Regions from separate parts of the Homo sapiens genome. Here region 2 is linked to region 1. Evidence: fine-mapped expression QTL. A gene starts in region 1. The other region holds a variant in brackets. All regions are shown on one strand. Distances are between the middles of the regions.

Region 1 (15,685 bases):
ACAGATGCCTGCCAACAACCTTATGTCTTCACAAAGACTAAAATGGAATCCCATTAAAAGTTATGATTTAAAAGGCGACCACCCCCAAAAGAAGTCATAACACTCAAGGGTGTCAATATATACAACTGTGTAAACACAACCAATCTACAACTATATCAACACAACCAGCACTCCTCTATGGGCACAGACACACACACAAAATTGTCTTGCTTTCTCAGATATGATCTCTGGCATGACTCCTGCTGGCATGAGGGCAGAGGAAATTGAGAGGAGCAAAGCATATAGCAGTGATGTCAGACAGGACCAAATCAGAGACAGGGTCAAAGTGGCAGAAAAATGAGGAGCACACTCCGAGCAAAGGCATGGGGGTGAGACAAAGGCACCCAGACTAGAGCCATCTTGGTGCTGCCCAGGGGTGGGTGGCACTCATGTTTGAGCTCCATGTGTCAGGCTTTTCAGGAAAGGGTGTACTATGTTATGTGTCTGTGTGCATATTGTGTGCCTGCATGTACATACATACGCTGAATTCTCACCATAACCATGTGAGGTAGATGCCATTTGTAGAGTGACTTGCCCAAGTCAGTGGAAGGACTATCTGCCCCTAGAGCTAGACTGATAGAATTTTCTATGTTGATGGAAGTATTCTGTACCTTCCCTGTCCAATACCATAGCCACTAATCACATGTGGCTACTCAGTATTAATGTTGCACTACTGCCAATGAAACATAGAATTTTAAGTTGTATTTACTTTTAATTGAACAGCTGAGGCCAGGTGTGGTGGCCCATGCCTGTAATACCAGCACTTTGGGAGGCCGAGGTGGGCGGATCACCTGAGGTCAGCAGTTCAAGACCAGCATGCCCAACATGGTGAAACCCCGTCTCTGAGAAAAATACCAAAATTAGCCAGGCATGGTGGCATACACCTGTAGTCCCAGCTACTCAGGAGGATGATGCAAGAGAATCAGTTGAACCTGGGAGGCAGAGGTTGCAGTGAGCTGAGGTCATGCCACTGCACTCCAGCCTGGGTGACAAAGTGAGACTCTGTCTCAAAACAAAACAAAACAACCCAGCAACTTGGTCAACATAACCAGACCTGCATCTTTACTTAAAAAAAAAATGGACACCCATCTCAGTTTTTGGAAAACTATTATATAATTGGAACAACTTGGATATGTGAATCTACTTCTCCAACTATGAATTTTATGAAATCAAAATAAAGGTCAAGCATTTCAGATAAAAATGTACCATGGTAATTGAGATTTGGTGTAAGTGTAAAATATATAACAGATTTTGAAGACAGCACAAAAGAACGTAACATAATTCATTTAAATAATACCGATGACGCCAGGCACGGTGCCTCACGCCTGTAATCCTAGCACTTTGGGAGGCCGAGGTGGGTGGATCACCTGAGGTCAGGAGTTTGAGACTAGCCTGGCCAACATGGCGAAACCCCATCTCTAACCAAAAATACAAAAATTAGTGGGCATGGTGGCGGGTGCCTGTAATCCCAGCTACTCGGGAGGCTGAGGCAGGAGAATCACTTGAACCTGGAAGGTGGAGGTTGCAGTGAGCCGAGATTGTGCCACTGCACTCCAGCCTGGGCAACAAAGCGAAGCACTATCTCAAAAAAAAAAAAAACTAAAAAACCGATGACATGTTGAAATGCTATTTTGGATACATTGGGTTAAGTAAAACATGTTAAAATGAATTTAACCTGTTTCCTTTTACTTGTCTAATGTGGCTATTAGAAAACTTGGCTTACTCAGCACTTTGGGAGGCTGAGGTGGGCAGATAACTTGAGGCCATGAGTTCCAGACCAGCTTAGCCAACATGGTGAAACCCCATCTCTACTAAAAATACAAAAATTAGGACGGGTGCAGTGGCTCACGCCTATAATCCCAGCACTTTGGGAGGCTGAGGCCGGTGGATCACCTGAGGTCAGGAGTTCAAGACCAGCCTGGCCAACACAGTGAAACCCCATCTCTACTAAAAATACAAAAATTAGCTGGGCATGATGGTGCATGCCTGTAATCCCAGCTACTTGGGAGGCTGAGGTTGCAGTGAGCCAAGATCGCACAACTGCACTCCAGCCTGGGTGACAGAGCAAGACTCCGTCTCCCAAAAAATAAATAAATAAATAAAATAAAAATACAAAAATTAGCTGGGCGCGGTGGCTCATGCCTGTAATCCCAGCACTTTGGGAGGCCAAGGCGGGTGGCCTGAGGTCAGTAGTTCCAGACCAGCCTGATCAACATGGTGAAACCCCATCTCTACTAAAAATACAAAAATTAGCCAGGCATGGTGGCATATGCCTGTAATCCCAGCTACTCAGGAGGCTGAGGCAGGAGAATCACATGAACCTGGGAGGCGGAGGTTGCAGTGAGGCGAGATCGTGCCACTGCACTCCAGCCTGGGTGATGGAGTGAAACTCCATCTCAAAAAAAGAAAACTTAAAATGACATATGTGGCTTGCATTTCGTTTCTACTGGACAGTGCTGCCCTGCAGCCCTCCCATTCCATCACGTGGCTGACATGCCTGATTGCAGGGCTTAGACACTAATATGATGGGGTAAAGATATGGATGAATATTCTTCCCCAAAGCTGAAAGAGCTTTCATGAAAATGCCTGGAGCCATTCAGTATAGAACTAAGTGCTCTTCCCCATGGTAGCTATCTCAACTTTGAAGGGACAAATTTTGTCAGCAGTGGGAGTCCAAGCTGGAGATGATGGTACCATCCCTTGTCTGCCCTTGGATCAGTTACCTTTGTCTTCAGCTTTTAAGGGAGACAGGATCTCAAAACTAAGGTTCTTATCCAGCTCTTTTATTTCACAGATGGGAAAATAAGGCACTGTCCAAGTAACACACAGTGACAGTGGCAAAGTCGTGCTTGCTTCCCAGGTCCCTGACCTCAGACAAGGGTGTTCTCTCCCATTAAATGCTTTTTTCTCCTCATCTTGCTCCATTTTCCTATCTTGTGGCAAGAGATTAACAATCTAAATTCCAATCCTAGTTCTGACACTGACCAATGAAATAAACATTTAGGCTGGGTGTGGTGGCTCACACCTGTAATCCCATCAAGGCAGGAGGATCACTTGAGGCCAGGAGTTCAACACTAGTGTGGGCTACAAAGCAAGACCCCCGTCTCTACAGAAAATTTGGTGCTGTGTACCTATAGTCCCAGCTACTCTGTAGGCGGAGGTGGGAGGATCGTTTGAGCCCAGGAGTTGGAGATGGCAGTGAGCCATGATCATCCCACTGTATTCCAGCCGGGGCAACAGAGCAAGACCCTGTCTCTAAAATAATAATAATAATAATAAATATTTACGAAGCACCTATTGTGTCAGGCACCTATTGTTCTAGATGCTGGGGAAACAACAGAGAACAGGACAGGCAACGGGTCAAAAGCCAATAAACAGGTAAATAAATAAGATCATTTTTGACAGTAATAATTGCTACAAGGAAACTCAACTGGCCGAAATGAATAGTGGGGGAATGTGAGCTACTTCAGATAGGGTGGTCAGGGAGGGGAAGTCCTCTCTGAGGGGATACGTGAGCTGAGATCTGACTGAGCCCGTCACAGGAAGGTTTGAGAGTAGAACAGGAAGTTGTGAGTAGAGCCTTGAAGGAAAGAGAACAGCAGGTGCATGGGTCCCCAGGCAGGACTCAAGGTAGCCACTCAGGCATCAGAAAGAGTCAGGCGGCCATGATGGCTCACACCTGTAATCCCAGCACTTTGGGAGTCTGAGTCGGGTGGATCACCTGAGGTCAGGAGTTCGAGACCAGCCTGACCAACAGGGTGAAATCCCTTCTCTACTAAACTACAAAAATTAGCCAGGTGTGGTGGCACATGCCTGTCATCTCAGCTACAGTCATCACATCCCTGTACTCCAGACTGGGTGACAAGGTGAGACTCCATTTCAAAAAAAAAAAGAAGGAAAGTCTATCAGGCTGGACAGGAGTGGGAAGGGGCAGTGAATGAGAATAGGCAAGGGCCAGACCCACAGGGCCTTACTGTGTGCTGTTGGGCCTCAAGCCTGCCCTCTCTGGACTTTGCTCTTTCTGTCTACGACAAAAGGGATTCTATCGCTTGGATTCTCAGATCCTCCTTTTCTGTTTTTGACACTGAAGAATTCTGTAACCTGCAACTTTTCCCCCACATGTGGCTAGCAGCCTAGAACATTCCAGGCACTGTGGTTTCTGCCTTTGCTTCATTCACTCCTGGCATATTCCCATGGTCTCAAGTGCCTGACCACCCATTTGGTGGGCCCCTGGCTCAATGCAGCACCCTCTATGTACATCAGAAAGCAGAGCCTCTTGGGGATACCCGAGGTGTCCATACAGAAGTGTTTGGACCAGTGCAGCAGTACAGCTGCTCTTCTGAAAAGGAAGGTGCACAAAACACCAAGGCCATAAAGGGTTATGGTTAAATACCAGGAGAAAAAGGCCAAAAAAAGATAGAAACTCCTAAAGAAAAGAGACAGAGAAACAGACTCCCCAGAGATCACCTGAATTGCTCAGCACCTAGAAGATGAAGGCAGTCATATCCCTTCCCAGTCACACTCACAGAGGCAGTTGCCGGGATCCCAATACAAGGTTTGGAGGAGCTGTCTCTGAGGTATGCTTTACTGCCCTTCCACACCCAAAAGACCTCATTCCTGGTCCCTGGCTACTCCCAGAGCCCACCATGCCCAGACCTCTTACCCACCTCACCTCATTTTTGTGGGACCACCCTCCCTACATGCTTTTGGAGGGCAATTATAGAAACCCATCCACTCCCCAGGAGAGATCAAGAAGTCTCCAGCTTTCTCGCACAAGCCCCCGATCCCTCCTCCAGATGCAGACCTCCCCTTACCCAATATTTAGGAACCAAGGTCCACAGCCATCTTAGAACCCCGGAAGTCTCAGACCCCAGGGGCCTCCGCCACCCCATCAAGATTCAAAGCCCACTGCTCCTTGGGGACCTGTGTGCAGGCTTTTTCTCCCAGAGAAATGTAGACCCTGTTTCCCTCTGAGGCTCTGAAGCCCAAGAGTTCCAGCTCCCTGGGGCGCTCAGGTCTCCCTCCCCTATACTGGAGTTCAGGTCCCAGTCATGGACACCTCCCCACCAATTAGGAAACAGGACTTCTACCAGCCTCCCTGGAGGACTAAACATCCAGTAACTCCAGTTTCTACTCCCTAGGAGACAAAGACATAGTCCCTGCTAGAGTCTGGGCCACCAACTCCCTTCAGGACAGAAGGGTCTAGATGTCATTCACCATGGTTCCCAAAGGTATCAGGATTCCTGGCCAGGGGCGGTGGCTCACGCCTGTAATCCTAGCACTTTGGGAGGCCGGAGCGGGTCGATCGCCTGAGGTCAGGAGTTCGAGGCCAGCCTGGCCAACATGGTGAAACCCCGTCTCTACTAAAAATACAAAAATTAGCCAGGTGTGGTGGCAGGCACCTGTAATCCCAGCTACTCCGGACGCTGAGGCAGGAGAATCGCTTGAACCCGGGAGGCGGAGGTTGCAGTGAGCCGAGGTCGCGCCATTGCACTCCAGCCTGGGCAACAAGAGACTTCGTCTCACAAAAAAAAGAAAAAAAAAAAAAAAAATCAGGATTCCTGTCCCCCAGACTCTCTGAATCCAGGTGATAAGAAGTCACACATCCCAGCTGGAAGTCAAGAGTCCACATCCCCTTCAAGCACCCAGGATTAAGCCCAGGCATCCCCTGTCAGAGTCTGGACTCCCAAGCCCCCTCCCACTCCTCACTGGGCAGGCTCAGGGGGTGCCAGCACAGCCTCAGCATCAGCCCGCATCTCATCGAGAGCCTGCAGCAGGACGCCGTGAGCCGCTCGGTAGCCCAGGCCACCTGTCGCCGCTGCACCACCCGCAGGCCACAGGAAGGAGAGAGCCCCCAGTGCTGCGCCCCCAGCAGTGCCCTCGCCCGCCCAGGCGCCCAGTCTTGCTTCCACCTCGGCGCGCGTCACCGGGCCTGGGAAATGAGCGCGCGCTGCCAGCTCTCCAGAAGCCAGGCCCAGGGCACGCTCACGTCGAGCCAGTGCCGTGGGTTCCAGCCCCAGGCCCCGTCGCCACTCCGCCAGCTGACCCCGCAGAAGTGCCACGTCGCATGCCCAGCCCAGCCCTGGGAGTGGTGCCGCCGCCGCCGCCAGACTAGCCAGCAGAGCTGGCCTCCACGCCCCGGCTCGCAACGCCGCAGCCTTGGTTCGGGCAGCGCTGGGAGATGCTGGTGGCAACGCCAGCAGCAGTGCCCCTGCCTGGGCTGGGGGGAGCGCTCGCCGCAGCCATTCGCATAGCCCTGGGAGTCCGCCAGGCCGTAGGGGGAACACTGGCGGCGGCGCCTCCTCCAGCACCTCCCACGTCTCGTCCTCCGGGCTTAACGCAGCGGCCCGCTCTGAGTCGCCACCACCTGATTTCTTCATGCCGACAACCTGCTGCAAACCCTCGCTGCCAGCTTTCCCAGGACCTTCCCCGCTGCCTGCTTTCTGCGATCCAGCGCTACATTTCTCCCTTCCCTTACTGAGTGCATTCTCCAATCCCCCTCCACCTGCGTTCTTTAAGCTCTCGCCCTTGGGATTCTCCATCTTGCCTTCTCCCAGACACTCCGGATCCTCGCCCTCGCCGTCTGTGCGCACGCAGACAAGAGGCGCATCTGGTAGCAGCAAGGCCTGGACCTGGGCCCAGTCCTTCTCAGTGGGGGCCCCAGGGGTGACGAGGATGAGGGCGTCGTAGTGCGTTGGGTGAGAGGCGGCGGCCGCGGTGGTGGCAGTGCCCGTGTGGCCCAGAGGCACGGTCCAGAGCACCACATTCGGGCGCTCTGGGGCTGGGAAGGGAGTGGGTGCTGTGGGGACCGAAGCAGGCGCAGCGCCTGGGTCGCCAGGATCCAATCCAAGCAGCATGTCCACCACAAGGCCCACGTCAGCCTTGCCAGCCACGGCCAGGTCTAGCCGTGCGCTGCCCAGGCGCTCCAGGCCTGAGCGCACCCACGACAGCGCAGCCTCAAGGCCGCCGGTCTCAAAGGCCTCACGCACAGCCTCTAGCTCTGCTGCACCCAACACCTCGAAGCCATCCTGCGCCGGTGGCAGGAGCCTGTGGGGACAAGAAGGGACAGGGTCAAAGGTAGAAGAGGGGCTGGGTGACATGGACTGGGCTATGATGACAAGGGCAGAGCTTTCCTAATGATCCCAGAATGGGGCAGGGGTAGGAAAGGGAAGGGCCAGACTGATGGCACAGCAAATAGAAACCAGATAGGGAGAGGCAGTGATGATATGGGTGGGGCTTCAAGCAATAATGGAGTCTTGATTATTGGACGGGTGGACATAAGGTCAGGTTTCCCACCCCAGCCTAAAATGGGGATTGGGCTAAAACTTCCATGGAATACAGTATTTGGGGGCGGGGTTTTTCCAAGGGTCGGCTGTGCTGGGTGGGACAAAGCTCACAGAGGGTGGGGCCTAGAACAAAGAATCGCAACTGTATTGTGGCCTAAACACAAGTCCAGCACTATTTGAGACAAGGTCCCCAAGGGCACTCTTTTCAGGGGCTGGGCCTAAGGAGGGTCAGTGAGGGGAGAAATCTCATCTACCAGTTCTTACCAAGGGGGAGTGGCTAAGGTGACTCCCGGGCAGGTGAGGCTAAGGAAAAAAGATGACAGTGTACTGGGACAAGGGACTGTCCCTCTCTGAGCCTCGTTTTAAAGTCTTTAAAATGAGGAGGCTGGCAGGTGGTAGAGCAAATCCAGGAGGTAGCCAGCAAGTGGGCACAGAAACAAGAGGGAGCTGGAGAAAGGAGGTAGATGAGGATGCCCCAAAATAATAAAGCTCATTGCGGGTGTGGCTTTAGGTGCTTGAAAACAAAACTGATGGTGGGGAGGGCTCAAAGATTAGAGTTTTCAGGTAAAATCTTCCAGGGGGCTGGGCAGAGAGTCTCACGACTGTAATCCCAGCACTTTGGGAGGCCAAGGAGGGTGGATCACCTTGGTGGGGGCAGGGCCTGGAAAAAGGAGCCTCAGGGCCCCAGCAGATAAAGTGTTAAGCCTTTCCCTTTTAATTCTAGGGCTTTGGGAAGCCTGGGTGGGGGCATGGCTTGAGGCCAAGAGTTCAAGACCAGCCTGGGGAAACAGTGAGATGCTGTTTTGCAGCCTGTAGTATTAGCTACTCTGGAGGCTGAGGCAGGAGGATCATTTGAGCCCAGGAGGTGGAGGCCGTCAGTGAGCTAGGATCGCGGCACTGCACTCCAGCCTGGGCGACAGAGTGAGAACCTGTCTCAAAAAAAAAGGCCGGGTGTGGTGGTTCACGCCTGTAATCCTAGCACTTTGGGAGGCTGAGGCGGGAGTATTGCTTAAGGCCAGGAGTTCAAATTCAACCTAGCCAACATAGCGAGACCCTGTCTCTCAGGAAAAAAAAAAAAATAATAATAATAGAGCTAAGCCTTGCCCCAAACTCACTGGGGGAGGGATCTCATGGACCTCCATGGTCGCACCTAGGTGCCTAGGGTCTCGACTAACGGACCCAGCCAGAAAGCCGGCACTCACCTCCGCAGCGCTTCTGCCTGGCTCTGCAGCGCCGCCCGGAGGCGCTCTAGCTCCTCGCAGCCGTCGCTGCTGCCGCAGTTCGCCGGTAGCACAAACAGATCCGCAGCTCCTAACCCCGCGCTGTTCAGCAGAGCTGCTGTCTGATCACGGGCCTGGGCGGCAGTCTGTGAATCCCCAGGACGGAGGTTCCGCACAGCCAGTAGCGGGGTCCCTCGGGCCAGGGCGGCCAGCGCTGCCTCTCCCAGGGCTGGAGCCAACGGTTCCCCGTTCCCCTCGGGTCCGGGCAGCACCAGTACCAGCACGTTGGCTTCCGCCGCCCAGGGCCCCGGCGCTGCGGGTGGGCAGCTCAGCTCGCCCAGAAAAAGGCCTGGGCCCGCAGCTCTTAGGCTGGGAACCCCGGAGTCCGGCCGTCCCTCGGGGGCCTCGAGCGTCTCCACATCCTTGTCGCACAGCGCTGCGATCAGCGCGGACTTCCCCAAGCCCGGAGGCCCCAGGAACAAGGCGGTCACGTCACCCTGCGGCGGAGGCATGGCTGGAAAGCAACGGGTAGAGAAGACCTGGGTCAGGGAGCACCTAGCCTTTTCCTTTCCTAGCCGCCCCACTCGGAACCCAGGCCTCAGTCCTTCACCCTGTCCCCTTCGGTTCTTGAGTGTCACTCTCCAGGACCTAAAAAATCCAGAGCCCAGACCCTATTCCCCCAGAATCCCAGGCGTCCTGTCTGTCCGCCCTCCCTCTAGATGGAAACGTTTCCCTTTCTGCTTCAAAAACTCTGAAATCAGGCGCGGTGGCTCATGCCTGTAATCCCAGTGCTTTGGGAGGCCGAGGCCGGAGGATCGCTTGAGGCCAGGAATTCGAGACCAGCCTGGCCAACATGTGGGGGGACTCTCTGGTAGAGTCTCCGTCTCGATAAAAAATAAAATTTAGCCGGGCATGGTGGTGTGCGCCTGTAGCCCCAGCTACTCGGAAGGCTGCGGCGGGAGGATCGCTTGAGCCCAGGACTTGGAGGCTGCAGTGGGCCGTGATCACACCACCGCACTCCAGCCCAGGCGACAGAGCAAGACCCTCTCTGAAAAATAAATAAAAATAAAACCTCAGAAATCTGGCTTCCAGTCCCTCCTCCCTCGGACACATTGTTATTTTCATCTTTCCCCTTCCCCCTTCCAAATCACCAACCGAGCAAAAAGCCGACCCACGGGAGAGAGCGCAGTCGGTGGCAGTAGGTCAGCAGCTGAGAAGCCCGGCCCCTGGGCCGCGGCGGACGGAGGCCGAAGAGGCCAGGGAGCGGTGATTTAGAGATGCCGGGACCCGTCCCGGTAGCTTTAACCTGACGTCACTCCCTCTCCCAAGGGGGTGTGTCTTGGAAGGCCGACAGCAGAGACCCAGCCCTTCGCCGCGCCTGCGCAGAACGGCCGAAGTGTGCACGCCCCTCTTTGGCGGCCTCAGGGCCTAGAACAATGAATGAGTCAACGCGCCTGCGCGCCACGAGAGCCTACCCACGCATGCGCAAAAGGCTTAGCTAGCTAAGCCGCGGGAGGCTGAACGTCATCAAACGCGCCATAGGGCAGAGAAGGACCCCTCCCGTTATTTTGAGGACCGGGCTGGTGCGACTATACTACTGCCGGATGGCAAATCCGGGATCTCGGCTCCGAGAGGCTCATCTGGCAAAAGGGCGCGGAAACCACGGGGGCCCTGAGACTGAGTGGTCCCTATCCCACTTCTCTCTGGGGCGGCGCTGTAGCCAGCGGCTGACAGGCGCAGCGAAAGGCAGCCCTCTGCTGTAAGGAGGAAAACTGAGGCCTGGGAGCAGGAACCTGTAGGCAGCGCTTGAGGGTAGCGGGATAGCAGCTGCAAGCGCGCGTGGGAGGCGGGGGCTCTGGGCGGAACAAAAATCACAGGATGTCAGAGGATGTTTCCCGGGAAGAACTGGGATAAAGGGTGGGTATCACTACCTGCCCCAAGACACTTGAGATTGGGATGACGCTGGTGTCAAAGATCAAGGCTTCCACGCTGAGTTCAGGGAGTTAGTTTGATGCAGCAGGTCATAGGTCACACCAGTGAGAAGACTCTAGGGGAGTCCCAAACCCAGGAAATCCAGTCCTTTGGGAGGTTTGAAGCTTCTTTTAGCAAGAACTCCATCAATTAGAGTTCAAGGAGATAGTATGTCGTAGGGGTCAAAGGCAGGCAAGGAGAGCCTCTGGCGATGTCAAAGGTCATAGACTTAGGGTGCCCTCTAAGACTGGTAACAGATGAACAGCTTCACTTATGCACGCTCCTCTCCTGACTAGAAGGGTCCCAGCACCATGGAGGACCCGAACCCTGAAGAGAACATGAAGCAGCAGGATTCACCCAAGGAGAGAAGTCCCCAGAGCCCAGGAGGCAACATCTGTGAGTACACATGGCTGGCGGGCTAGAGGAGGGTGGGGTGCAGGAGCTGATGCTAAGATCTCTGTGGCACTTCGGTGTCCAAGGCGCCACAGAGTTTTGCCTGTTGAGAAGGGGCTGTAATGGTCCCTGAGCTGCTCTAGCAGGAAGTGCATCTCCTCACACCAGCTTATGTGGCCAGAGTACTCACCCTCCTCTGGCCACATAAGCAGGATTGCAATGCTTATGCATTCAGAGGGATAGGGTGGCTTCCAGGAGAGGCTTGGGTTGGAGATGTGGCTGGGAATGGTTCTATTGGGAGAGAAACCCCAAGATTCTGGTCCCAACTCTGCCCTAGACTTTCAGTGTAACTTGGGCCTTGGTTTCCTTGACTGTCAAAAGAGGGTGGTACTTCCCACCTCACAGGGTGGGTATGGGATTAACTGCAGCAAAGGGGAAAGCTAGGGGTTAATGATGGTAGCCAGTTTGACATGTAATAGCAACACCTCCTGCTCAGTGTTTTATTATGAGCTAGGTGTATTTATTCTCATATTATGAACCATTTTAACATTCATTATCTCATTGAGTCCTTCTAATAATAGGCCCTTTAAACTGGGAACTGAGGCAGAGAGAGGTATTTGTAACAAGAGCTGTAGTCTCAATGCCCTTGAGCCAGAGACTACCAGGAACACACCTGCAGTTGAACACGTTGGGTTTCTCACTGCAATGAACACAGACCATGGGGGGACTGTGGGGTGTCTCACTAAGAATGGTAAAAACGACACAGGATTTGGGCTTGTGGGTGGTGATTTTGGGGAAGGTTCAAGCAAAATTGTTTTGCTCTGGATTGGATGCTACCAGGAAGCAGGGGCAATTCTATGATTGGCTATCGTAATAAATCTTACCCAGAAGGAGGAAGGAAGGAGGCGAGGCTCAAGCTCTGACTGATAAAGCAGCAGCAGACATTCACATTAGCCAGGATAGGAGGATGTTTGGTCATTTTTCTGCTTGGACAGTATTCATATTTTGTCTGTGCTCAGACATTATGATGATGTAGTCTTGTCTTGATTCATTTTAGTCACAGCGTGGCCTTGTCTGTCCTTGATATTCTGTGAAAATTTATGTTCAACAGAACACCAAGGTCTAGCTGTGAGTACCAGGCCAGATCCTGGATGTCGGGCTGGATTTCTCTGTATCATTAGTCATAATTGCAAATGACTGTACAGCAATTCATTTATTCCTTCCAACGGTCCTATGGAGTAGATACTGTTATTAGCCCATTTTCCAGATAAGGAAACTGGTGTAATTGCCTAGGAAGTGGTGGAGGTGAGATTCAATCCCAAGCAGTCTGGCTCCAAAGGCTGTGCTGTAATCACCATACCCCTCTGTTGGGCAGGCTGACTCTCTGGGTTCCAACCCTGGCTCCACCATTTCCTTTCCTAGCCTCATGACTATGGGCAACTTGCCTAACCTCTTTGAATCTCAGTTTGCTCATCCATAAAATAGGTGCAAGAACAGTTCTCCTGTTTGGTTGTCCAGCATTAGCATAGAACCTAGCACATAACACATTCAATGTTAATTGTTGGTGTGATTCTGGGGTTCAGGAAGAGGTCTTGGAGACTCCTGCTGGCCTCCCCTGACCTCTCCCCCACATTCCTCAGGCCACCTGGGGGCCCCGAAGTGCACCCGCTGCCTCATCACCTTCGCAGATTCCAAGTTCCAGGAGCGTCACATGAAGCGGGAGCACCCAGCGGACTTCGTGGCCCAGAAGCTGCAGGGGGTCCTCTTCATCTGCTTCACCTGCGCCCGCTCCTTCCCCTCCTCCAAAGCCCTAATCACCCACCAGCGCAGCCACGGTCCAGCCGCCAAGCCCACCCTGCCGGTTGCAACCACTACTGCCCAGCCCACCTTCCCTTGTCCTGACTGTGGCAAGACCTTTGGGCAGGCTGTTTCTCTGAGGCGGCACCGCCAGATGCATGAGGTCCGTGCCCCTCCTGGCACCTTCGCCTGCACAGAGTGCGGTCAGGACTTTGCTCAGGAAGCAGGGCTGCATCAACACTACATTCGGCATGCCCGGGGGGAGCTCTGAGTGCAGCTTAAGCCTCTCCACGGTGACGGGTGGCTCTGTGGCTGGTAGGACTCACCCATGATATGGGGTGCAGGAACTCTGGGGGCCCTGAAGGATTTGCTTCCCTCCCCTGGGAAGGCAGAGGGCTCTTAATAAAGAGGACCCAGAAGATTCTTATTTAGAGCTTCAGTCTTTGGAGCACACAGGGCCTTCGTGAGACAGTGAAATCAGATAATAATGAGATCTTTTGTTAAAAAAAAAAAATGGGAAGGGAGTGCGGGAGAGAAATGGTTTGTGTCTCCCTTATTCCCAGTTAAATACCTAGCTGCAGATTGTGCCATCACCCTTCATTCTTCCCAGATGGATGCCATGGGCTATGGGAGCAAATTGCCCTGGACCTTTGCCTGAATGGGGGCAGGAAAGGTGAGGTGTTGCTGGCCTGTAATGCCACCAGGTGAGTTCCAGATGTGGAGCAACTTGGGCTTTTGGGGATGGGGCAGCAAAGTTGGGAGCTGGACCCCAATTGAGTGGGGGTAGCAATTGGAGTCCTTGTGTCTCTTTTCCACCCCCTGCCATCCTCACTTAGAGGGGCCATGGCACTAGATGGCACTAGTCCCCCGATAATTTATGTCTCGTTGAAATAATTTTGTATATCATTCTAGTCCTGAAATATTTTTTTCATATGTGTAGGTGAAATGGTATGAATAAGCTAACAGGAATAGTATCTAAAAACAGAAAACATCCATATTAAAATGTCTAAACAGGGAGCTCTGGCTTTTGAGTGGGAATTTCCAGAGAACATAAGGGTGTGGGCAGGTGGGGGAACTCAGGCCAGAGTTGGCCTCGCTTTGTGGGGAAACTGGTTTGGAATCAAACAGAGATACCTTCTGTTTCGGGTTTTATTTGGCCAACACTGGGAGATTTCCCATTAAGATCCTATTTTCAGCTCTCTTGAAAGGCCCAACCTAGGCTGACATTGTCAGCAGGGGCAGGACAGAAGTTACAACAGGCTGGAGGGAGCAGTGGGTGTCACCCTCAACTGGAGATGAGTCCCACCAGGCCAGTTTTACCCCCTTAGTTACCTGCCCTGCACCTGCAGACAATGGTCGATGCCTTGCATATAATACTTATAGACTCTGTTTATGTTGAGGGATGTTTTTAAAGCCCACAGGTGAGGTGGATGTGGTAGACTGATCACTGTCTCTGTTTTTAGCTAGGCACACAGTAGCTGAAAAGACTGCATTTCCCAGATTCCTTTGCAGCTAGATGTGGCCTTGTGACTGATTTCTGGCTAAATTCCTGGGTAGAACAGTCAAGCTTAAGAAAGGGACGGCTGGGCACAGTGGCTCACGCCTGTAATCCCAGCACTTTGTGAGGCTGAGGCCGGTGGATCACCTGAGGTCAGGAGTTTGAGACCAGCCTGGCCAACATGGTGAAACCCTGTCTCTACCAAAAATACAAAAATTAGCCGGGTGTGGTGGCATATGCCTGTAATCCCAGCTACTTGGGAGGCTGAGGCAGGAGAATTGCTTGAACCTGGGAGACAGGTTGCAGTGAGCCAAGATCGTGCCATTGCACTTCAGCCTGGGTGACAGAGTGAGACTGTTTAAAAAAAAAGAAAAGAAAGGGACATACCTTTTTTCCACCTTCCTAACTGTAATACGGAAATGGTATCCAGCCATCTCAGACCATAAGGATAAGAGCAACACGTGGGAAGACAGAGCAACAAGATAGGAGCCTGGGTCTCTCGTCAATTTCAAGGAGCACAGCCACCATACCAGCCCACTTCCATATTGCTATCTAAGAAAGAAACTTCTATCTTATTTAAGCCACCATTATTTTGGGTCTCTGTCACATGCAACAGAATTTACAGCCTAAGACAGGGGTCTGCAAACTATGGCCAACTCTAGCCTGCTGCCTGGTTTTGCAAATAAAATTTTATTTGAACAGTTTTATACTCATTCACTTATGTATCGTTGATGGCTGCTTTTGCCTAGAACAGCAGATCTGCATAGTTGCAACAGAGATTTTAAGGCCTACAGAACTTAAAATAGTTACCATCTAGCCCTTTACAGGAGAAGTTTGCCAACCCCTGGTCTAATAAGACATTCAACCTACTCTGAGTCTGGAAGCAGAAATTTCCATCCTGGGAACCACCATCTTTACCAGGTAGGTAGGTAGGTAGGGTATGTGTGTGTGTGTGTGTTTTGGGGCAGGGCTACCCTGGATCTCTTTGCTGGGGTGACTTATGGGGAGACTGGTTGGAGTTAGTAGACCATCAGTTTTTTTCAAGATACCAACTTCATGAAGAGCCAGATATTTCCTCTGGCTCCTGGTGAATGCTCCGAAGTTTCCAACCCAGATATTGTCACACTACCCCCACAGTGGCTCCCCTAAACCAAACCTAAGTATCTAATCCCACATGCTCTCCCAAGATAGCAGCCTGCCCAAGTACACCCTGGGCTTCCTGTTCTCTCCAGACATCACAGATTCTCTAAATAGCATCACTGATGACATCCACATCTTTATCTGCAGCCCAAACCCCAGACATAAGATATAACCACTTGAATAAACAAATGGAGATCTCAAACTTAAAATGGGTCAACAGGACTCCTGCGGCCCAACCTGCACCACCATTGCCATCATGTTAGTAAACTGTGCACTCTTAAATTCTTTTTTCTTTTTTGAGTCTCACTTTGTCTCCCAGGCTGGAGTGCAGTGGTGTGATC
Region 2 (15,685 bases), 19 kb before region 1:
GATCAGTGGTTGCCAAGGGCAACATTGGGGAGAGAATAAGAAGTGACTGTTTAATGGTTATGTGGTTTCTTTTTGGAGTGATGAAAATATTCTGAATTAGAGAATGGAGATGGTTGAAGAACATTGTCAATATGCTAAAAAAAAAAAAAAAACCCTGAAATGTGCACTTTATTTATTTATTTATTTATGTTTTTTGTTGAGACGGAGTCTCACTCTGTTGCCCAGGCTGGAGTGCAGTGGTGCAATCTCAGCTCACTGCAAACTCTGCCTTCCAGTTCAAGTGATTCTCTTGCCTCAGCCTCCCGAATAGCTGGGACTACAGGCACGCACCACCACCCCCGGCTAATTTTTGTATTTTCAGTAGAGATGGGGTTTCACCATGTTGGCCAGCCTAGTCTCGAATCCCTGACCTCAAGCAATCCACCCGCCTTGGCCTCCCAAAGTGCTGGGATTACAGGTGTGAGCTACCGCATCTGGCTGAAATGTGCACTTTAAATGGTTAAAACAGTAAATTTTATGTGAATTTTTCTCAAAATAAGAGATGAGTGCTCAGTATGTATCAGCTGTGAGGATAAGAGCACAAGATGACTATCACCGATGGCCTGGGTTCGTGTGCATGCAGCTTTCTCAGGGAGACACAGTTCTGATATGAACTGTTCCTGAAACAAACATGGCACAGGAAGGCAAAGTTCCTGAGATATATTGCTAAAAAACTGTTTCACATCCATGAAATGCAATCTTTTCTTTTTTTTTTTTTTTTGAGACAGAGTCTTGCTCTGTCACCCAGGCTAGAGTACAGTGGCACGATCTCGGCTCTCTGCAACCTCCGCCTCCCGGGTTCAAACAATTCTCCTGCCTCAGCCTCCCAGGTAGCTGGGATTACAGGTGCCCACCACTGCACCTGGCTAATTTTTATATTTTTAGTAGAGACAGGGTTCCACCATCTTGGCCAGGCTGGTCTTGAACACCTGACCTCGTGATCCACCTGCCTCAGCCTCCCAAAGTGCTGGGATTACAGGCGTGAGCCACCGCGCCCGGCCATGAAATGCAATTGTATGCATCATTTAAAAGAATAAGGTAGGCTGCGCACGGCGTGGCTGACGCCTGTAATCCCAACACTTTGGGAGGCCAAGGCAGGAGGATCACTTGAGGTCAGGAATTCAAGACCAGCCTGGCTAACATGGGGAAACCCCATCTCTACCAAAAATACAAAAATTAGCCAAGCCTGGTGGCATGTGCCCGTAATCCCAGCTACTAGGGAGATTGAGGCAGGAGAATCACTTGAAGCTGGGAGGGGGAGGTTGCAGTGAGCCACGATCGCACTACTACACTCCAGCCTGAGTGACAGAGCGAGATTCTGTCTCAAAGTAAGTAAGTAAGTAAGTAAGTAAATAAATAAATAAATAAATAAGGTAGAACTTCATGCAGTGTGCATCTCCAAAATACACTGTTACTTGAAAAAAAACACACAAGGGAACAGTGTATATACTATGAATTTTTTAAAAAGGGATGGAGGCGGTAGGTATATATGCTTGTATGTGTACAGAATGACCCAGGAAGACCACCCAAAAAAACTGCTAATGGTGGTTGCATCAGGAGAGAAGAATGAGGGAGCAGGAGTTGGGGAGGGAGCAGGAGTTGGGGAGGGAGCAGGGAGGGATGGAAAGGGTGAGGGGAGATTTTCTTTTTAGTGTATACCCTTTTGCACCTTTTGAATTTTGCACTATATGCATATAATACCCATTCAGAAAGCAAATATAATAAAACCCCAATGGCCAGGTCTTTGTGGCTCTGTCTGTAATCCCTGTAATCCCAGCTACTCAGGAAGCTGCCTCCAAAAAGCTTAAAAAAAAAAAAAAAAATTAGTTGGGTGTGGTGGTGTGCACCTATAGTCCTAGCTACTCAGGAGGCCAAGTTGGGGGATCACCTGAGATCAACAGTTCAAGACCAGCCTTGGCAACATAGTGAGACTCCGTTTAAAAAAGAAAATCAAATATAAATAAATAAAACCATAATAGTTATCTCAATACAACAGAATACTATACAGAAATGACAATAGGCCAGGTGCAGTGGCTCATGTCTGTAATCCCAAGGATTTAAGAAGCTGAGGCAGGAGGAATGCTTGAGTCCAGGAGTTCAAGACCAGCCTAGACAACACAGTGAGACCCCCATCTCTGCAAAAAAAATACAAAAATTAGACTGGTGAACTGGCACATGCCTGTAGTCCCAACTACTGAGGAGGCTGAGGTGGGAGGATCGCTTGAGCCCGGGAGGTCGAGCCTGTAGTGAGCTGAGATGGTGCCACTGCACTCCAGCCTGGGCAACATAGTGAGACCCTGTCTCAAAAAAAAAAAAAAAAGACAATAGGAGTCGAGCACAGTGGCTCATGCCTGTAATCCCAGCACTTTGGGAGGCCAAGGCAGGTGGATCACTAGAGGTCAGGAGTTCGAGACCAGCCTGACCAACATGGTGAAAACCTGTCTCTACTAAATACAAAAAATTAGCCAGGCGTGGTGGTGCATGCCTGTAATCCCAGCTACTTGGGAGGCTGAGGCAAGAGAACCACTTGAACCTGGGAGGCGGAGGTTGCAGTGAGCTGAGATTGTGCCATTGCACTCCAGCCAGAACAACAAGACGAAACTCCGTCTCAGAAAAAAAAAAAATCACAATAAATCATCTACAGCTACACTGAACGACATAGATGAAATGAACAAACATAACAAGGGAAGCCAGATAAGAAAAGTTTATACCACACGATTCCATTTTATATGCAATTCAAAATCAGGCAAAATGAATCTATGCTGTTAACAATCAGGACAGTGGTTACCCTTGCAGGGGTACTGACAGAAAGAACCTGAGGGAACTGCTGGGGGCTAGGCATGTTCTGTGCTGCATCTGGGTGTGGAGTACACAGGGCTGCAGTTTGCAAAGAGTCACTGAGCTGTACTCTTACTTACACCTTCACTTCACTCTATGTATGTTACACATCAAAAAACAGTAAAAACAAATTTAAGACACCACAGTGGCGAACTGAGTGATTAGAAAACCAATAACAATCAAAAATGACCATAGGCCCTATTGCTGATGAACATTTCTTCTAAAAATGACACACCTCCAGTGACACACCAGAGTTATATCTGGGTCTTGTCCAAGCCACCCCTCCAGCCCAGGAGTAGTTAGCAAAGAGGTTGGCATTTCCCTCTGGGAGCAGGTGATGAACAGACAACAGAGCCTGCTGTGGCTACTGCAAACAACCAGGTGTGTGGGGCTGTCATAAGCAGATGGCTAAGCCCCATGTGGTAAGATCGAGATTTTGCATAACAATAATTAGAGGAGAAAATGCAGGGTAGTAGAAGAACCCACAGATGTGGCCAGGTGCAGTGGCTCATGCCTGTAATGCCAGCACTTTGGGAGGCCAAGACAGGAGGACTGCTTGAGCTCAGGAGTCCGAGACCAGGCTGGGCAACATAGTGAGACCCCATCTCTACGAAAAATTTTTAAAATTAGCTGGGCCTGGCGGCACACGCCTGTAGTCCCAGCTATCTGGGAGGCTGAGGTGGGAGGATTGCCTGAGCCCAGGAGGTTGAGGCTACAGTGAGCCATGACTTTGCAACTGCACTCCAACCTGGGCAAGAGAGTGAGACCCTGTCTCAAAACATAACATAACAACCCAGAGATAAGCCTACTGCCTTGGTGGCCAGAAATGTCTGCCTTTATCAGTTACGTCAAAAGAATCAAAATTAGCATTTGATGAATCCAGAGTAACCCCACAAATTAGTCATTGCCAGATGCAATCAGTCATTCCAAAGGGTCTCTGACGTGGAGTAAGTTAACAAAACAACTGCTGCAATGCTGATCTCCCACTCCTGTGTGTGGCCCCTGCAGTTGATTGTCAACATGGAGCCAGCAGGATCCTGTGAAGGCCTAAGGCAGATCCTGTCCCTCCTCTGCTCGGAGCCCTCCGGTGGCTCCTATCTCACACCTGGAGTAAAAGCTCAAGTCCTTTCAATGGCTTTCCAGGCCTTAAGTGGTTTTTTAGGGGTTCCCAGTCCCACCCTGTTACCTCATCTCCTACCTCTCTCCCCCTGGCTGACTCCACCCCAGCCATACTGGCCTCCTTGCTGTCACAAGCCAGCTTCAGAGTCTTTTCCCTAGATACATACATAGCTCATGTTGCTCAAATGTCCCCTTTTCAGGGAGGCCTTCCCGGACCCTACTATTTAAATAAAAATCCTTGCCACTGCTCCAGCTCCAGCTGGGGCACTCTCATTCCCCTTCATTAAGTTCCTCCATAGCACTCATCATCCAACATATGTTTCACTGACTCATTTGTCAGTCTTTCCCTACTAACGTGAAAGCTCCACAAGACTGAATTTCTTTTGTTTTTAAGAGACAGCATCTCATTCTGTTGCCCAGGCTGGAGCGCAATGGTGCGATCATAGCTCACTACAGCCTTGATCTTCCAGGCTCAAGTGATCCTCCCGCCTCAGCCTCTGGAGTAGCTGGGACCACAGGCATAGGCCACCACGCTTGGCAGATTTTTGTATTTTTAGTAGAGATGAAGTTTCCCTGTGTTGCCCAAGCTGGTCTCGAACTGCCAGGCCTTGGCCTCCCAAAGTGCTGGGATTATAGGCGTGAGCTTACTGCACCCCACTGAGAGTGAATATTTTTTGTCTTCTGCTGTGTACTGCTGTATTAAAACAGTGCTTGGCCTACAGAAGGCACTTAATAAATACTTGACTAAATAAATGAGTGAATGAACAAATAAATCCATCATCTACTCCCGAGTCTATAGGTTCTTTCTCTGCACTGACAACTTCCCCACATTCTGTCTTCAGCTCCACATGTGATCCCCAACTGCCTCCTGGATGCCACCCCTAGAATGTCCCAAAGTCACATCAAACCTGGACATCCCAACTGAAACACATCACCTCCCCAAGCTGCTCCCTCTGGGGTTTACCATGTTGGTGACCGCTGCAATACTCCCTCAGTCTCTCCCAGGCCAGAGACAGGTTCTGTCTCTTCTGCCTCCAGTCACTCTGTTTCCACAGCAACTGGGGTAACAGAATGAAATGTGATTTCCCTGGAGTCACTTGATCATAAGAGAGCCCAGTGGAATCATCACCCACTAAGTAATAAAAACACAAATCCCTCCCTCTACACAAACACCTACATGTTGACAGAGCACTTGTGCAGACATTATGTCACCGAATTTTCACAACTCCGGGCTTGGATGTCATTATTCCCAATGGACACATGAGAAAACAGGTTAGAGAAATGAAACAATTTTCTTGAGGTCACCGATTAAGAGGAAGAGCTGGGGGCTTGAATCTAGATCTCAAGACTAAAACTGTCAGCAATCTGTATCTATCACAGTTTAAAAGACTGAGGTCAGGTGCAGTGGCTCATGCCTGTAATCCCAACATTTTGGGAGGCCAAGGTGGGTGGATCACTTAAATTAGCATTTGGTGCTCATTTGCCTTGAACTCCTGAGGTCAGGAGTTCAAGACCAGCCTAGCCAACATGGCAAAACTCGGTCTCTATTATAAATACAAAAATTAGCCAGGCATGTAAATTCCAACTACTCAGAAGGCTGAGGCATGAGAATCATTTGAACCTGGGAAGTGGAGGCCATTAGTTGACAGGCACTAAACACTGACATCAATTGGGGTGGACCAGATGATGTTACAGTAACAAAGGAGTCCCTAATCTCAGTGGTTTAAAACAACCAAGTTGTATTAACTTACACTGTAATAATGCTGTGTAACAAATCATCCTAAAACTGAGATCTTTTCTTTTTTTTTTTTTTTTTTTTTTTGAGATACAGTCTCACTCTGTCTCACAGGCCGGAGTGCAGTGAAACCATCACAGTTCACTGCAGCTTCAACCTTATGGGCTCAATCAATCCTCCCCGCTCAGCCTCCCTGGTAGCTGGGACTACAGGCATACGCCACCAAGCCCAGCTATTTTTTATAATTTTTCGTAGAGATAGGGTTTCCCCATGTTACCCAGGCTGGTCTCAAACTCCTGGGTTCAAGCGATTCACCCACCTCGACCTCCCAACATGAAAACTGAGACTTATACCAACAAGCATTCTTATAAGAATTTGTGGGATGGCTGCTTTGGCTGCAGTTTGGGAGGATTCAGGTCTCTTCCATGAGATTCCACAGTTTTCTGGGATTAGCAGTAACCTGGCAAATGTTCTCATGGCATATTATGGGAGCACAAAAGCCAAGTGCATTTAAGGCCCTTGCTGAAGTTAGATGTGCTGAAATTCCATTAAGTAAATCATATGGTCAAACTCATCAATGGAGCAGGGAAATATACTCCCCCTCCAGTGGGAGGGAGAGGAGTGGATATTTGCTGAATGACTGCCCATTCACAAAAGGTTAATTTTTCCGTCACCCTAGCACTATCCACAGAGTGTTCTGCTCCTTATAGTCATAAAGCAGCCCCCAGGCCAGGAACAATGGTTCATGCCTGTCATCCGAGCACTTTGGGAGGCTGAAGCAGGAGGAACGCTTGAGCCCAGGAGTTTGAGACCAGCCTGGCAACATGGTGGAAACCCCATCTCTAAAAAAATACAAAAAAAACTAGCCAGGCATGGTGGTGCACACCTGCAGTCCCAGCTACTCAGGAGGCTGAGGTGGGAGGATCGCTTGAGCCCAGGAGGTAGAGGCTGCAGTGAGCCAAGCCAAGATCATGCCACTGCACTACAGCCTGGGAACAGAGTGAGACTCTGTCTCAACAGATAAATAAAAGATTGACTGTCAGGCAAATTGTATAACTTCTTTGGGCCTCAGTTTCCTCATCTGTAAAAGTGGGGATAACAGAGCCTGCCTCTTGGGGTTTTTTATGAGGACTCAATGAGCTAATCCATGTGAGTGAGGTGTGTAGAGCAGCGACTGACAGGTAACGTTGAATAATGCCAGCTCTCATTATTATTATTTTATTTTTTATATTTTGGGGGTCTCACTCTGGTGCCCAGGCTGGAGTGCAGTGGCACAATCTCAGCTCACTGCAGCCTCCATCTCCTGGGCTCAAGCAATTCTCTCACCTCAGACTCGCCAGTAGCTGGGATTGCAGGTGCACACCACCATACTCAGCTAATCTATAAAATTTTGGTAGAGATGACATCTTACTGTATTGCCCAGGCTGGTCTCAAACTCCTGGGCTCATGCAATACTCCAGCTTCGGCCTCCCAAAGTGATGGGATTACAGGTGTGAACCACCATACCTGGCTATTATTCTTTAAAAAAAATTATTTATTTTAATAAAAATAGAGACAGGGTCTTGATATGTTGCCCAGGCTGGTCTGGAACTCCTGAGCTCAAGCAATCCTCCCATCTCAGGCTCTGAAAGTGCTGGGTTTACAGGCATGAGCCACGGCATCCGGCCAGTTTCCCCTTCTTTAAAGTGGAGTTGATTGGCTTAGACGACCTTCCTGGACACCTTCCAGCCCTGAGCCCACTGGCTGCAGGAGGCAGAGTACGTGGCAATGATTCATTTTGTTCCAGCTGAGGAAACTGGAACCCAGAAAGTAGATGCCACCTGCCCAGGACCACACACTGATTCCTGTGGTCATCCTGGACTTAATCCTTGGGTCTCCTTTCCTCTCTGCTGAGGGGCACAGGGATTATGCTGCCCATTTTCCGAGTAAGGAAGCTGAGGCCCAGCAAAGAAAGTGACTAAACCCACTGCCAGTTGGCTCAGGAGCAGAATCTGGAACCCCGGACTCCAGACTCCTAGTGAGGAGGAGGTGGGGTGGCAGGATCACCTGTAGGACCACAGAGATGGTCTTCTCGCCTGCCTTGGCTGCCCGCCATTTTCGGTAAGTGTCTGCCTTGAGAAGATTTTCTGCACAGTGAGTCTGGAAACAACAGTGGGAGAGGAGAATTAGGGCACAGAGATGACAGCTAGGCCTCCAGCTCTCAGATGATTCCTTTGAGTCCTCCCAAGGCCTCTACGACCCCCAGATTTAAGCTCTCCCGTTAATCCCCCGACACTCTGCCTGGAGTTTCCCCTACAACACTTTCCCGTGGAAGTTCACCTATGGGCTCTCCAAGAAAGCTTCCCTATTCCTCCTTTTCTCTCCGGAAGTTCCCTAGACGCCGGAACGTCCCTAATTCAACATCTCTCCACAATTCACTTTTAGCCTCCTGGAAATCCCCCCATGACTCTCCTTAGACTTCCAAGAGAACCCCAAAAGCTCTTTTAAGAGCTATCCTCATTAATTCCCTCACGTCTTCCAACCTCCCCCATGCAGGTCCCTCACCGAGTCCTGGCTGCTGCAGGACACGACATGGCGGAGGCGGATCTCCGGCATGTCAACGTCGTGGGCTTCGCCTGGCCAGAAGGATGAGGTAGAGTATGGGGTCCGAGGGGCAGGGAGAGTGGGAGGG[G/A]GCGGGGTGCGCCCTGCGCTGGCTAAAGTGCGCAAGCGCGCGAGGCTCGGGCCTTTCAAACCCCGGCGCGCCGGCGCCGGCGTCGACACTGCGCAAGCCCAGTCGCGCCTCTCCAGAGCGGGAAGAGCGCTGCGTTCCTTAGCAACGAGCGTTTCCTCCAGCCCCGCCTCCCTCCGCCACACACAACCCCGCTCTAGCCTCGCCTCCCAATGACGTCCGAACCCTGCTTTCTGGGAGCCTAGCAACAGAAGCGACCTCCGGGATTGGTGTCTGGAAGAAATTCGCCTTTCTCATTGCACGATGGAGTTACCGCCCACACTGAAGCCGAGAAAGCAAATCTTTTTGCTGTATTATTATTTATTTTATTTTTTAAAAATTTTTTGTTGAGACAGGGTCTTGCTCTCTCACCCAGGATGGAGTGCAGTGGCACGATCTCGGCTTTCTGCAACCCCTGTCTCCTGGGGCCAAGGGATCCTCCCACTTCAGCCTCCTAAGTAGCTGGGATTACACGCACGCGCCACCACATTCGGCTAATTTTTGTATTTTTTGTGGAGACATGGGGTGAGAGGGCGGCGGGTCTTGCCATGTTGCCCAGACTGGTCTCGAACTCCTCAGCTCAAGCGATCCACCTGCCTCGGCCTCTCAAAGTGCTGGAACTACAGGCGTGAGCGACTGCGCTGGGCTAGGACAGCAAATCTGAGTGAATTTTCGTAGTTTCGTAGGGAACCTGGATTCTACGCAACAGGATCTCTTCAAATGGCTCAGGCGGCTGCACTCTTCTCTCTGTCCCCTTGCCACACACACACACACGCACATATACATACATACGCGCGCGCGCACGCGCGAAAAAAATTAGCAGATCTCTTTCAGCCTTATGCCTGAGGCCAAAAGAGAAGGGTTCTGCGTCCTAAATATAACACAAAGCATGTGCCCAACCCCCACCACACACACACACACACACCCCTATCCTGGAGTTCTTCCACAAAAGCCTCAGTTTCCCAATATGTGGACTGTGGGCATCTGTCTTTTACTACGCCCGCCTATGACTGCCGACAGACATCCCTCTGTTCATTCGGTGCCTTGGAGACCCAAGGGTGCAGCCCTGGGTGGGGTCGCAGCTGGAGACAGCCCAAACACACAAGGAGTGTGAGCCGAGCACATGAAGAGAGGGGAAGGGAGACAAGGCACCCCGCACCCGCAGGACCAGCCTGGACATGCTGGGTGCTCCAAGGTGGGGCCCTACCCACACTGGGTGCTTCCTTGGGAGGAGAGGGGAAGAGAGAGAAGGAGAGGGAATCCCAGTTCTTGCAGCCACTGGGAATCAAGAGGCCCAACTCCGTCTTGGTCTTCAAGCAAACAAACAAACAACAATGGGCCGTGGGAAGGTGAGAAAACAGGGTGGTGACTTTCTGGGTTCTAATAGAAGAGGGGGATGGAAGCCCAGACTCCTGGGGTCTCCATGGAGGTGGGGGGCTGGGCACAAGATGCCCAGGTCACTTTTGGATTCTGGTTCTGCCTTCCCAACCCGGAGGCCACAGAGGACTGCCCTGGGTTCTGACCTCAGCTATTTCTCCCCGTAGGGTGAATGTGGGTCCAGACCCACCCCTCCTCAGCTTCCTATAAAAGCTGGGGACCAGGTACTGCTGATACACACACCATGAGGCTCTCCAGGAGACCAGAGACCTTTCTGCTGGCCTTTGTGTTGCTCTGCACCCTCCTGGGTCTTGGTAAGTGACAAGGGACCTGAACTGTCTCTGGGACCTCAGGAAGAGAGAGGTCCCAGATTGAGAGAGAGAGAGATATAGAGAGAGAAAGAGCCTTCAGCAAGTCCTCAAGGTGAACGGGGAGGCATTCTGGAAATTCAGATTCATGGAAGAGGCCAAGGGTAAAGGAAGAGAAAGCCTGGGGGTCCCAGAGAAGAAAAGCTCCTGTGATTGGATCCCTGAGAGAGGGGCTTGGTGGGCTCTGAATCCTCCATCCTCCAGGAAGGATCCCAAACACATCTCAATTCTAGGAAATCAGATGAGAGCATGGCTGGAAAGGGAAATCTTTAAAAATATAATTAAAAAAAAAAAAAGAGGGAGAAGGCCAGGTGCGGTGGCTCATGCCTGTAACCCCAGCACTTTAAGAGGCCGAGGCAGGTGGATCACTTGAGGTCAGGAGTTCAAGACCAGCCTGGCCAACATGGTGAAACCCCGTCTTTACTAAAAATACAAAAAAAGTTAGCTGAGCTTGGTGGTGGGCGCCTGTAATCCTAGCTACTTGGGAGGCTGAGGTGAGAGGATTGCTTGAAACTGGGAGGCAAAGGTTGCAGTGAGCCAAGATCGTGCCACTGCACTCCCCAGCCTGGGTGACAGAGCAAAACTCCATCTCAAAAAAAATACATTAATATCATATGATATATTTTTTTAAAAGAGGTAGAGAGATTTCCTTTCTCCTTAGACTAAGAAGTTCAGGCCCCAGCCCCCTCCTCCCCTGCACACAGGAGTCCAAGTAAGCCTCACTTTCCCCAGGACCCAGGTTTCTGGGCCCCTAGCTGTCCCCTCTCTCAGAACCAAGAAGTTCAAGTCCTCTGCCCTCCTGGTCCTCACTCTCCCTCCTTGACCTGGGATGCAGACCCTAGCCTCAGGGCCCCCTGCCTGAGCTCCTGCTGTCTACAAGACCTACATGGCACCTTCAAGGAGGAGAATCCCACATTCAAGAACCAGCTGGACCTGAAGTTTCACAAAAGTCCATGGAAACCTCCATCACGACCCCTCCCTGCCCCTGAGCTTTCTCAGCGGACCCTGGCATCCAAAATCCCCAGCCATGTAATTAGGCAAACAGGCTTCATGGTGGAGTCGCTTCCCGCCCCTGGAAGCAGCTTTGCTGGCATCACCACTGCTTCTTCGTCCAACTCTGGACAGTTCCTTGGGCAGTGGTCAACATCCCGCCCATGAAAAACCAGGGAGCTGCTGGTCCCTCCTCTCTCAGGACACAAAAGTCCTAAGTCAAAGTCGTGGTCCGAAGACCACACCACCCATGACTACAGCCTCGCCCTCTGTCTACACTGCAGGGTGCCCACTACACTGCGAAATATGTACGGCGGCGGGGAGCAGGTGCCATGGCCAAATGAAGACCTGCAGCAGTGACAAGGACACATGTGTGCTCCTGGTCGGGAAGGCTACTTCAAGTAAGAGGATGTGGCCTGGGACCTGGTGGGGAGGTGGGGTGTACCTTCAGGGTGGAAGAGACTACCATGCTGAGGGGGGATCATCATGGTTCTCAAGACGGGAGCGTGGGAAGAAATCAGTGGAGAGCAGGAAAGAGGGAAAGACCATCATGAGATGGAGGGAACAGAAATAAGTGGTGTGATAGAAATCATTATTGTCACAGAATTCTGAAAATGACACTGTCCTAAAGAGAAGGAAAATGTGGGAGGGGTGAGAGTTAATAGACTTTCTTAGGCAGAAGAGGGGTAAGGAAAGACACTGTGGGGGGCAGAGAAATAGTGAGAGGGGAAGAATCTAACTGGCAGGAGGTGGAAATGGTGGGGAGTGGATAGAGAAGGAAGAGGCTGGGCTGGGGTGGGAAAGTGTAAGTGTAATCAGGGAAGAGGTCATTCCTGACCGAGGGAGGAGAGATGATGGTGGAGTGTTGGAGTGGTGGAAGAGACAGAAAAGGGATCACCCCAAACAGGAGATGGATGATAACCTTGAAGTATGGAGCAAATCATTTTTTTTCTTTTTTGAGACAGAGTCTCGCTCTGTCACCCAGGATGGAGTGCAATGGCGCGATCTCTGCTCACTGCAACCTCCACTTCCCAGGTTCAAGCGATTCTCCTGCCTCAGCCTCCCGAGTAGCTGGAATTACAGGTGCGTGCCACCACACCTGGCTAATTTTTGTATTTTTTAGTAGAGACGGGGTTTCGCCATGTTGGCCAGGCTGGTCTCTAACTCCTGACCTCAAGTGATTCTCCCGCCTCGACCTCCCAAAGTGCTGGGATTACAGGCATGAGCTACCGTGCCTGGCTGAGCAAATCATCGTAAAGAGGAGAAGCAGAGACAGGGAGGGGGAGATGTGGATGAGTAAAATGAAAGGGAGGCCGGGCACGGTGGTTCACGCCTGTAATCCCAGCACTTTGGGAGGTTGAGGTGGGAGGATCGTTTGAGCCCAGGAGTTTGAGACCAGCCTGGACAACAAAAAGAGATCCATCTCTACAGAAAAAAAAAAAAAAAAATAGTTGCGCATGGTGGCACATGCCTGTAGTCCCAGCCACTTGGGAGGCTGAGGCAGGAGGATCACTTGAGCTTAGGAGATCGAGGCTGCAGCGAGCTAAGTGCACACCGCTGCACTCCAGCCTGGGCAACAGAGGGAAACCTGTCTCAGAAAATAAAATGGAAGAGAGAAGATGGGCATGAGTTAAATGAAAGAGACCACCCCAGACCTGAAAAATGATGGAGGAGAAAGGGAGCAATGGAAGAGACCAGTGGGGGACAGAGATGTTTATACAAAGCTGAAAGAGACTTTCAATCACAGGAGGAGAGATGATGAGGCCTGGTGAGGGAATAAAGGCGACTTTGGGTGCAGGGAGAAAACACTGGTCGGGAGAGGCTGTGAAAGGAAAGTGAGATCGAAAATCACCCAGCCAGCGTTGGTGGGTTAAGGAAGGACCTGAAAGGCTTGAAGAGAACCCCCATCCCGGCATAGAAGAGGAAACGCACCCTCGGGAAGGGAGGAGAGAGAGCTGGGGGACCCCTCGATGGAGTGAAGGGGGAACCTGTGAATTGGGTAGGAAGAGACCACCACATGGTGGGGAGGGGGAAGGCCGGGGAGACTGGAAGAACCCACCTTAAACAAGACCTGAAAATAGCCAAGAGGGGCAGCAAGAGACCCTCGTTGGGAGGTCTGAGGAGTGACCATGGCAGGATCTGAGAGAGGAGGATGCCTGTTGCTGGGACCGGGGTTCATTGGAAGAGACTACGGGGTGGGCGGGGGTTGGCGGGGAGTTGAGGAGGCTGGAAGAGACCATTTCACGAAGGCATGGGGGTGGCCATAGGCGGCCTGAAATAGAGTAATCCCGGAAGGACAGGGAGAGAGGGGTGGCCGTGGGTGGGGTGGGGTGGGGTGGAAGGGACCACATCCAGCAGGCTGAGGTTGGCAATGGGGAGCTGGAAGAGACCACCAAAGGCCGACTAGGGGCTATGGCAGCGGGAGGGAGGGCTACCTAAGAAAGCACTCCAGGCCATGCACCAGACAGATTTGGCCGCATGGCTCTAGGGGGCTTGAAAGAGACCGCCCCGGCCGGGCTGGCGCAGTGGCTCCCGCCTGTAATCCCAGCACTTTGGGAGGCCGAGGCGGGCGGATCACCTGAGGTCAGGAGTTGGAGACCAGCCTGGCCAACATGGTGAAACCCCGTCTCTATTAAAAATACAAAAAAATAGCCGGGCATGGTGGCGGTCGCCTGTGATCGCAGCTACTCGGGAGGTGGAGGTTGCAGTGAGCCAAGATCGCGCCATTGCACTCCAGCCTGGGCAACTCCGTCTAAAAAAAATAAGAAAAGAAAGAAAAAAAAGAAAGAGACCATCCCAGGAAGTTGTGGGGTTGGGGAGGCCTAGGGTTAGGCAAGACCTTGAGGCAGGGGTTGAAGCCAGGGAGTGGTCAGCCAGCACTGTCCCTGCCTGTCCCCATCCCACAGAGGGCAAGGAGTTGGTGCACACCTACAAGGGCTGCATCAGGTCCCAGGACTGCTACTCCGGCGTTATATCCACCACCATGGGCCCCAAGGACCACATGGTAACCAGCTCCTTCTGCTGCCAGAGCGACGGCTGCAACAGTGCCTTTTTGTCTGGTAAGAAGCCCGTGGTGTGTGGTGTGTGCTCTGGCTCTCCACTGACCCTTGCTGTAGCCACTTGCTGGCTCTGAGCCTGTTTCCTTACCTGTAAAATGCAGTGTCTATTAGCAACCCTGGTGTTTCCCGGGGTTGTTGGGAGGTTGGGGGAACGGCTTAAACATCCCTATTCACCTTACACTTCATCCTCATCCTCAGTTCCCTTGACCAATCTTACTGAGAATGGCCTGATGTGCCCCGCCTGCACTGCGAGCTTCAGGGACAAATGCATGGGGCCCATGACCCACTGTACTGGAAAGGAAAACCACTGCGTCTCCTTATCTGGACACGTGCAGGCTGGTGAGTGGTGCCTGAATCTCTGGAAAAGGAAACAGAACTAGAGGTCCAAACTTCTAGGTTCGATGGGAGGAGAGGGTTCCAGAGAAGTGGGTGAGGATGTGTTCTGGGATTATGAGGAAGAAGGGGCTGAGGTCCCTGATTCCAGTCTGAAATCTCCCTTTCAGGTATTTTCAAACCCAGATTTGCTATGCGGGGCTGTGCTACAGAGAGTATGTGCTTTACCAAGCCTGGTGCTGAAGTACCCACAGGCACCAATGTCCTCTTCCTCCATCATATAGAGTGCACTCACTCCCCCTGAAAAGCTATCTGAACAGAGGAAGATAATGTAGTGTGAAGTCCCCATTTGTCCTCAGCCTGTAACTCCCCGTGTGCCTATAAAGAAGTTAATAGAGCAAGCCTGAGTCCTTGTGGTGTGATGTATCTTGATGAGATAGAATGCAGGAAATAGGGGGTCTCAATCCTCATTTCAAATCCCCTCCTTTTGAGGAAGAGAGGGAAGGCCCTGCCTTCTTTCTTTCTTTCTTTTTCAGACAGGGTCTCACTCTGCCACCCAGGCTGAAGTGCAGTGGTGCATTCAAGGCTCACTGCAGCCTCGACCTCCCGGGCTCAGGTGATTCTCTCACGTCAGCCTCCCTAGTAGCTGGCACTACAGGCATGCACCACCATGCTCGGTGATTCTCCCACCTCGGCCTCCCTAGTAGCTGGGACTACAAGCGTGCACCACCATGACTGGCTAATTTTTTAATTTTTTTGTAGCAACAGGGTTTCACCACATTGCCCAGGCTGGTCTTGAACTCCTGGGCTCAAGCGATCCTTGGCCTCCCAAAGTGCTGGGATGACAGGTGTGAGCTACCATGCCTGGTGGCCCTGCCTTTTATGAAGGGATTAGTCTTTGCCAGGTCCCTGTGCTGTGTTTTCCATGCTATACCTCATTTCATGATCATAACAACTGTGAGGTTGATATTATTATCCCCACTCTACAGATGAACAAACTGAGGCATAGATTGTGGGTGTCAAAATTTGCCTTGGGTCAAACAACCAGGGAGGGTCAGAACCTTGATTTGAACCCGAGTCTGGTATACTTCAGAGTCCATGATCATCTCTCTCAATTAAC

Evidence for each region. PIP is the estimated chance that this variant, and not a neighbour inherited with it, causes the effect.
Region 2: its variant is fine-mapped to the expression of ZNF576 in whole blood (TOPMed, PIP 0.93).

The regions. Positions count from the first base shown.
Region 1 is chr19:43,586,282-43,601,966 of GRCh38, forward strand. ZNF576 (zinc finger protein 576) reads left to right here and starts at 10,314. Exons shown (of 3, transcript NM_001145347.2): 1 at 10,314-10,462; 2 at 10,813-10,912; 3 at 12,550-14,876. The coding sequence starts at 10,828. The coding sequence ends at 12,977. It overlaps IRGQ (immunity related GTPase Q), which reads right to left and starts at 9,853. Exons shown (of 3, transcript NM_001007561.3): 1 at 9,701-9,853; 2 at 8,528-9,059; 3 at 1-7,086. The coding sequence starts at 9,057. The coding sequence ends at 5,745. RefSeq lists enhancers at 3,453-3,542, 8,477-9,273, 9,459-9,528, 9,929-10,348.
Region 2 is chr19:43,567,133-43,582,817 of GRCh38, forward strand. It overlaps XRCC1 (X-ray repair cross complementing 1), which reads right to left and starts at 8,395. Exons shown (of 17, transcript NM_006297.3): 1 at 8,276-8,395; 2 at 7,778-7,870. The coding sequence starts at 8,326. PINLYP (phospholipase A2 inhibitor and LY6/PLAUR domain containing) reads left to right here and starts at 8,669. Exons shown (of 6, transcript NM_001193621.3): 1 at 8,669-9,787; 2 at 9,983-10,129; 3 at 11,458-11,574; 4 at 14,080-14,232; 5 at 14,431-14,571; 6 at 14,736-14,966. The coding sequence starts at 10,060. The coding sequence ends at 14,869. RefSeq lists a silencer at 8,349-8,508 and enhancers at 8,609-8,768, 8,769-9,295, 9,296-9,821, 13,083-13,142. The variant G/A (reference allele first, on the strand shown) is at 8,403.